2 linked regions of the Homo sapiens genome follow. The protein of the gene in region 1 interacts with the protein of each later gene in a pairwise test. Each region holds a gene or a part of one and is shown in the gene's direction. Other genes may lie near its edges. The genes, in order: CBFB and CHRM5.

The links.
Region 2: the proteins of CBFB (region 1) and CHRM5 interact in a two-hybrid assay, tested with the Homo sapiens proteins (one large-scale study listed by BioGRID and IntAct).

The regions. Positions count from the first base shown.
Region 1 is NC_000016.10:67,027,805-67,032,061, forward strand, and holds the start of CBFB (core-binding factor subunit beta), read left to right. Parts: upstream 1-1,344; 5' UTR 1,345-1,603; coding exon 1,604-1,681; intron 1,682-1,922; coding exon 1,923-2,009; intron 2,010-4,257. UniProt on the Homo sapiens protein: Forms the heterodimeric complex core-binding factor (CBF) with RUNX family proteins (RUNX1, RUNX2, and RUNX3).
Region 2 is NC_000015.10:33,967,077-33,971,559, forward strand, and holds the start of CHRM5 (muscarinic acetylcholine receptor M5), read left to right. Parts: upstream 1-1,420; 5' UTR 1,421-2,074; intron 2,075-4,483. UniProt on the Homo sapiens protein: The muscarinic acetylcholine receptor mediates various cellular responses, including inhibition of adenylate cyclase, breakdown of phosphoinositides and modulation of potassium channels through the action of G proteins.

The DNA.
Region 1 (4,257 bases):
GTACTTTAGTAGAGATGGGGTTTTGCCATGTTGACCAGACCGGCCTCGAGCTCCTGATCTCAGGTGATCAGCCTGCCTCGGCCTCCCAAAGTGCTGGGATTAGGCCAGGCGCAGTGGCTCATGCCTGTAATCCCAGTACTTTGGGAGGCCGAGGCGGGCAGATCACCTGAGGTCAGGAGTTCGAGACCAGCCTGACCAACATGGCGAAACCCCGTCTCTACTAAAAATACAAAAAAATTAGCTGGGCGTGGTGGTGGGTGCCTGTAATTCCAAATACTCGGGAGACAGAGGCAGAAGAATCACTTGAACCCAGGAGGCGGAGGTTGCAGTGAGCCGAGATCGCGCCATTGCACTCCAGCCTGGGCGACAGAGCGAGGCTCTGTTTAAAAAAAAAAAAAAAAAAAAAAAAAAAAGAGGGCTGGGATTACGGGTATGAGCTACAGTGCCCGGCCACAGGACTAACTTTGAATCAAACTCTGCCATAAATCCCATGTCAGACTTTCTCCAGTTTGGGCTAAACAACTTCCCTAGAATTTATGGATCTTATTTTTTGCAGCTGATTGCACATTGAGTAAGTATATGGACTGGCAATCGGTTACATTCTTAACTCAGCTTGTTCTTCTTTAGAAACTTAAATTTATTGGGCTCCCACTGTGTGCTAGACCCACATAAAGGTTCTCACGCTAACACTGCAAACCTAGGAGTGTCTGCATTTTGGAAATAAGGAAACTGAGGTTTAGTGGTCCAATTCTTATCTAAGGCCCCAGCCAGCAGGTAGTGTAGCTGAGTGGGATCCCATCTAAGACCCATCTGACTCCAAAAGCCACGACCTTTCCACCATGACTCGGTTGGATTCTTTGGTCCGTTTCCACCTCAGTCTTCAACGTGCAGAGCCTACACCCCTGCCGGTCGGTTTAGGGACGAAAAGTCCCCAAGGACTTAGGTTTCCTCGCGTTCAAGTGACAATCTGGGGTTACTCCGCGCACCTGGGGAACCCAGAAGTTCCAGATGACCGAGGAAGGGCGGTAGAAAAGGCCTGCGCTGGCTACTCCCGTCTGCTAAAGGCCAGGCGGATCCCCCAACGACAGCTCCACGCCGAGTGGCCGCGGGCGAGCAGGGGGAAAAGGGCCCTGATGCGGAAGGAGCCCCGGGGCGCCACAGCCAGGCCGCTCCGCCAGCGGGCGGGTGGCGCATGCGCGGCGTGGGCCGCGGAGTTGTGAATGGTGCGTCTTGTTTGCCGGAGTTGGAGGCGGGCGGGCGCGCGAGGAGGAGGGGTGGGGCCGGCGGGGGCGGGGTGGGCGGTGAGAGGAAGTGGCGGCGGCGGCGGCGGCGGCGGCCGGGGGCGGTGAGCGCTGGGGCTGCGCGGGCGGCAGGCAACGGCTGAGGCGGCGGCGGCGGCGGCGGCGGCGTGGGTTGGGCTCGAGCGGGCGGCGGCGCCTCAGACTCCCCGGAACGGGAGCCCACGCGGGCGGGCGCCTGAAACAAAGGGAAGCGGGCGTCCGGGCGCCGCGGGTGGGCGGTCAGTCGGTCAGCGCGGAGCCAGCCAGCGGGTGCCCGCGCAAGCCCCGAGCGCGGCCGGCCGGCGCGGCCTCAGGGCGGGAAGATGCCGCGCGTCGTGCCCGACCAGAGAAGCAAGTTCGAGAACGAGGAGTTTTTTAGGAAGCTGAGCCGCGAGTGTGAGGTGAGGCAGGCGGGCGGGCGGCTAGGAGGCCGCAGCGCGCCCCGAGTGGGCCCGGGCGGAGAAAAGTTTGGGCGGCACGGTCCCCGGGAGTCCCGGTCGGTGCGCCCGCGGAGGGGCAATCTCGCCGGGGCGGCCATCGCCCGCAGCCTCTGCTTGCCCTTATCGGCGCTGCGCTGGGAGGGCGGGCGCGCGGGCGGCGCCGCGGATTTGGCTCCTGATTTCGGGCCGTCTTGCCTTGCAGATTAAGTACACGGGCTTCAGGGACCGGCCCCACGAGGAACGCCAGGCACGCTTCCAGAACGCCTGCCGCGACGGCCGCTCGGAAATCGTAAGTCGGCTGGCCCGGGGCGCGCGCGGGTCACTTGTTGCGCGGGGCCGCGGCGGCCCAGGCCGGTTCCGGACGGCGGCGCGGCTGCTGCGGCTCCCGGAACTGAGTGGGCGCCGTCTCACTTCCTACTCGGGATTCAAAATGCGAAACCAGATGCCGCGGGCCGGTACTCGCGGGGAGACGCTTTTCCTGGGGCTCGCCGCGGTGGCGCGTGTCGGCCAACGGAGCACCGCGAGTGGAGCTCGAACCCGAGCCAGACTAAACAAGCGAAGGGCATTGTTTAGGCGGCGACACCGAAGAAGGGTTCAGGGTATTTGTAGCAAGCAAACCCCCATTCGGAAAAAGAAGTGGAGCTTCATTCAAGGTCGGCGATAGTTTGTTTCTTAGAAGGTAGATCTGTCGGTAATTCTCTGTGTCAAGCGGTCTCACTACCAGATCGCCGAGTAGAAATCTTTCCTCCAGTTATTTATTCTAATAGAGAGGGGAGGGGGGGGAAAAGGCCCTAAAAATGTCATTTTCTTAGAATGTTAAGCTTCAGGAGAATCAGAAAGAAACCATTATCCCCATGTCCTGAGTAGGGCTGCTGTTCCTAAAAACTGCACAGATGGGCAAAACCCACGGTTGATCTCGAGGTCCTTGTTTTAGGAGGCAGATTTAGTGCGTCTTCACCAGACCTTGGGTTGAAAAAAAAAATCCAAGGGTCCTAGTTCCTCTCATCTTTTTGGTTTGCCTTGTTGGAGGTGCTGATGAGGAGGGAGTGGTAGGAAGAAACCAAGAAAAGAGGTTGATTATTACTATTTTTTTGAGGTAGAGTCTTGCTCTGTTGCCCAGGCTGGAGTACAGTGGCTCGATCTCGGGTCACTGCAACCTTCGCCTCCTGGGTTCAAGCGATTTTCCTGCCTCAGCCTCCTGAGTAGCTAGGATTACAGGTGCCTGCCACCACGCCCGGCTAATTTTTGCATTTTTAGTAGAGACGGGGTTTCACCTTGTTGGCCAAGCTGGCCTCCTGACCTCAAGTGATCCGCCCTCCTCGACCTCCCAGAGTGCTGGGATTACAGGCGTGAGCCACTGCGTCTGGCCTGATTATTTTTTAAAAAGTTGAAGCACTGTCTAATGGAATGCTGTTACTCTCTGCTCGGTGACTTGGACTCACTGCATTGTTAGAGGCTTGAAGCTAGGTGCGATTTGAATTTGGGTTAACAGTAGGAAGACATTGGAAATTTACTTCTCCCACCCCCTTTATAAAACCAGTTTATTTTTATTCAGATATAATTCATATGTCATAAAATTCTCCCTTTACATCACTGAACTCAAATTTATTTTTAAAGAATATTTTGATATTTTAAGTGAAAGCTTTTTAGAGTTGTAATAGTGAGAAGATACTGGTTAAATTTATCAGGAGCTCCTGAATATTTGGTCATTAGTGCATGTTATGAAAGAGAGTCTCAAGCTTTTAGCCCACTTGCAAATTTCTTGAGTAATTGTAGTATTTATATGATTGAAGTGCATAAGACATACTTTTAGGTTTTGGCACTGAGTGGTATAATAAAAGAATTCATTAGCTGGTGCGATGATCGTGTCATCCTTTGCCTGGGTTACCTTTTGCAAAGGGAAGGTGGTATACCTGACGATAGAATTTCCTGGAGGTAAAGGATGCAAGTATAAAAGATAAGTTACAAAGTACTTGTACTCTCACTGTTTGCTTTTTTGTTTTGAGACGGAGTCTCGCTCTGTTACCCAGGCTGGAAGCACAGCAGCATGATCTTGGCTCGCTGCAACCTTCGCCTCCTGGGTTAAAGCGATTCTCCTGCCTCAGCCTCCTGAGTAGCTGGGATTACAGGCACACACCACCACGCCCGGCTAATTTTTTTGTATTTTTAGTAGAGACGGGGTTTCACCATCTTGGCCAGGCTTGTTTTGAACTCCTGACCTTAAGTAATCCTCCCACCTCGGCCTTCCAAAGTGCTGGGATTACAGGTGTGAGCCACCGCGTCTGGTCTTGTTTCGTTTTTTTTTTTTAAGAGAGAGGTCTTGCTGTGTGGCCTAGGCTGGGGTGCAGTGGCTGTTCACAGGCACAATCATGAGGCACTACAGCCTCAAACTTCTGGGCTCAAGCGATCCTCTTGCCTCAGCCTCCCAATAGCTGGGACTACAGGCTCGGCGTCACCATACGCAGCCCCATGTGTTGTATTATCATCACTATCTTTGAAAGCTGAATTTTTTTGGAAATTTGGTGAATCATAGCTAG
Region 2 (4,483 bases), on another chromosome or scaffold:
TACAATCCTTTTCAGTATCATGCAATGTTAAGTGGGAAAAGTTCAAGAAAATATTCTAAAGATATGTTCTCTTGCATAAATATTCCTATTACAAATGTGTGTCAAAGACCACTATAAAACTAAAATTCACTTCTTTCTCATACATGTTCATCTGTCAGTGTTTAAAATTCTATTGGCTAACAATTAAAGTGTATACTTTGTCTGGATTCTCACTCAGAAAAAACCTACATAAAGACATAGTTTCTGAGACACAAGGAATTTAAAATGAACTGGATATTATATGACTCCAGAGGATTATAGCCAATGTGTTAGGTGTGATAATGGCACAGGGTCATGTGAAAAAGTGTCCATACTTTAAAAATATACATACTAAAGTACAAATAGGTGAAATGAGATTTGCTTTAAAATATTTTAGCAAAGAATTGAATCTGACAATTGTTGAATCTTGGTAATGAGTTTCTGGAGGTTCATGTATTATTTTTGTATTATTTTTCAGAGTTTTGTGTAAGTTTGAAATGTTCCATAATAATTTTTTAAAATTTAAAAACATTATATTGTCTAGATACACTCATAAAGAACTCAGGCAGGGAAAAAACGTTTAAATTTAAAATTTAAATTTTAAACTGAAGTGCAGTTTTAAAAATTTGAATTTTAAATTTAAAAACTGAAGTGCAAAAATTATGAAATTGACATTTAAAAATCTATTCTTTTATACAGCTAATATGGATTTCATCTAACTTAAGGAAAAGCTTTAATGAAGACCCTGTTAAAAGTTTGTATCAAATGAGGACTTATAATGCTTTACTCCAAAGCAACAAAACGCATATGCCCAAAAGATGTATAAAAACAGGCATACATTTAGGAAAAAAAAAAAAGGCAGCCTTTTCTCTGCTACAAATATTTAAAACTCACAGTATACTCTTTCTATCTCAAAGACTTTTAAAAATTATTTTCCATCTTTAGGGAAAACCATATGAGAAAATAACTCAGCAACATGTCTGTGAATAATGCCTAGCAAAGCTTAAAAAAAAAAAAAAAAAAAAAAAAAAGCTTCTAGCCAAAAAGACTAACAGGAAAAAATGAACATTTTCAAAAGCATTTTGGAACCTTATTCCAGCTACCTCCATGCTAAGCCCTCTTTTTCCTCCCAAAATACGTCACTTAACTGTCTGTCAAATAACTCTTGCCCATTCTACCTGATCACACTCTGAAGCTGCAGCTTTTCCTGGATTCTCTTCTCAATGACAAGCTGTTCAAACAGAGAACACCTATCAAAACGAATATCATCATCTGCTCCTTTCTTTCTTCCTTTCAGGATATACTGCTGTCCAGCAGGGGAAGTAATTAATGAGTTTTTTATGTATGGCAGCGTCATCCCATCAGTTTGCTGTCTGGTTTGAATAGCTCCTATCAGCTCTTCATTCATGCCAAGTACGCTCACCGTCCAGAGACATGATAAAGCCGTACTTCCTTCTGGATTTTTACCTCACTATTCAAAAAACAGGGTACCAGAAGCATGGGTTACAAAAGCATGAGGAGGACAGAAGAAATGCCTTCATCTTCTACAGAAAGGAAGCTGATGGACTGAAAAGTTCGTATGGAGAAAGGAAAGCAAGAGTGCAAGAACATCCATGCTTCTAGTCCAGATAATGTTTTTTAAAGCAGCTTGATTTGGAAGCGTGTGTAATTCTGAAATACGAACAAGCAGAACTTTTCCAGGGGGTCAAATGCATATAGGAACAACCAGGATTTCTCATTGCTGAAGCATTCAATGAATCTTTAATAAGTTCTCAACACTCAGATTGTTTGTGATCAGATCAACTGCTGTTACCAGATAAAGGCAAAACTCACCCTTCTGGTTCTATAATCCTATCCAAATGGAGTCTTCATCTACCGCATACTATCCTAACTAATGCTACAGGATTATCAGGAATACAGATATAAAGACACTGCAAGAAATAAAACACTGGCAAAATAAAACATGAAAGGAAAGTAGAGAAGGCATTTTGGGTCTCGAAGCTTACTATTTCCAGCCAGAGTTCAAATTACTGAGCTTCAAACAAACCACTGCCAGGTAAGATTTAATTTTATAACCTTAATTTATATCTTGTCTACTGAAATTAAATCTGCTCGTGCTGTGAATGAGATAGTGGATTTGAATTTCTTGCAACCCTTCCTTAAGCTTTTGCAGATTTAAGCTGAGGTAAACGCTTGTTTTTACTTATGCTGCATAAACAAGTCACTCAGAACTAGATAATAAAGCATCCAAAACTCCCATTCATTTTTCATTGAATTTGTCTCATCTTTGTCTTTATTTTTATCCCAATTTTGTTTTATTTAATAGCTTGAAAAAAATGCATGAAGAGAGCCCTGAATGGTGCATAAGAGCCATTCACAGATAATGTTTACCAACAATATTCAAATGAACTTAGTTTCCCAGAGTACTTGATAAAACAAAGAAAAATTAATAAGCATTTTAAATATTTTTATTCATATAAAGGAACAAAAGCTCAATGACTGATTTCTATTGTTACTAAGAAAAAAAAGCTGTGATGTCATTTCATTCATACTAAAGAAAAATAATCTCTACTAAATCGAGGTATAACACTCTTGTAGGATAGGGCTAATTTATCCTAAAGATACTAGACATTTTTATAACAGACTAAATGAAGACATTTTTCTGATTCAACAAGAGGATAAAAAGATGAAAGATGTCTGGTACCTTAAAACCTCAAAAGCTTTGACTCAGGTCAGTGGTCCAAACTGTAAAATGCAAAGCACTAGTGAAGCCATCAAAGGATTTTAAAAGATACAGTGCCTTTAAGAAATTCCCTAGAAATCACTGCATAATGAGACTTCTAGAGTGACAATCTTATGTAAAAACAACAAAACGTTATCATTTAGCAGAAATCCCAACCACATTGGTTTTCATGAGTTTCATTGGAAAACTTAGGTCCAAAGCACCTTATCATAAAGAAGTCCTACAACAAATAATATTTATATTATCTTAGAAGAGAGGAGACAGGGAAACAAGAGCATATCACACCTAACTACGGAGATCTTGTGGTAATATACATAAAGTTATCAGAAGTAAGTATTCAATACTTGTCTAAAAGTAGTCAAATTAGAAATTCTCTTCCATTTCACTGAATTCTTTCCTTTTTTCAAATTTTAGTTAAGGGAGTAAATTATATGATCCCTTCAGGCTTTTCAAGACAGTCTATAAATAACCTTAAATATCATAAGTCTTTTACATCTGAAGTCATTACAGAAACTTACCTGTCATTTTCCAGTACCAAAGGAAAGCAGCAATTTAATACAAGTAGTGATTATCTAATACAACAATTTGTTTCAGAGAAAAAAATGTTTATTTAGAAATCTCAAAATACTTCTTATGCATACCAGACATAACTAAAAGTTAAGGGTGGTATTGTTGTTGTTTACCTACACTGAGAAACAGCTGAACCCTTAAGGGTTCTTTTCATCTGTTCCCTCCTTATTATGGTATTACAGTTTGTAAACAGACATGATTCAAAAATATGTAGATATTTTAAATGAAGAATATTAATCAATATTTTAAATTATAATTAAAGATTTTTTAATTAACTTGGACAAAAGTATGAAATTTCTACTATGCTCAATTTGCTTCCAATAAATGGAATTAAAGGGGGCAGATAACAATATTCCTTAAGTGTTCTGGATTTTATTTACTCATTGTAATGTAAACAGAGACTCATATCCCACTAATTTGGGGGCTTTGTTTCTATAACTCACCTTCTAATGACAATGGCTGGGCAAATGAATACTACCTTGCTCCACCCCAATTTGGTCCTTGTCAGCATCAATCCCAGTGAATTTTCACTTTCTTTCCTTTCCAAATCAAGGCTTTGCTCTATAATAACCCATTCAGAAAAGTGATTACTGAAGTTTTGGTAACAGCTTTCAAAAAAATACCCTACAGCAATTTGGAATAATCTGTATTTTCTTCATGTAGGGTGAAAAAAAAATTGAAAACTGCTTCAAGTTTACATCTCATGGGTACAAATGGATGAGGGATTTTATGCTAGTACCTGAAGATTTGGTTTATTTATAACAACTTTTCCCTGTTATTGATAGATTTAACAATTAAAGAGATTCTGAACAGTCTTGGGATGTAGTCAATGACCTGCCTACTTGTTTCTGCAATTTAGAATGTATTTCATTCACACATATTATATAAAAGTATTATATTGTAAAAGTAATGTGATTGTGTATCATTAGTTCCTTTCATAGAAATGGAGCAAATATTTTGGCTGCCATATCCTTATAATAATACCTATTGCTATATCCTTAAATTCTGGTCATTTTAAATTATCCAAAAGCTATAAGCTTTTTATTTAAACTATGATAAAATAAAAATGGCATCTAGGTCAAAATGAACACATCCATTTCGTGTATGTTGACATAACAATCTTAAAAAGTAATTTTTGTCTGAAATACCAAG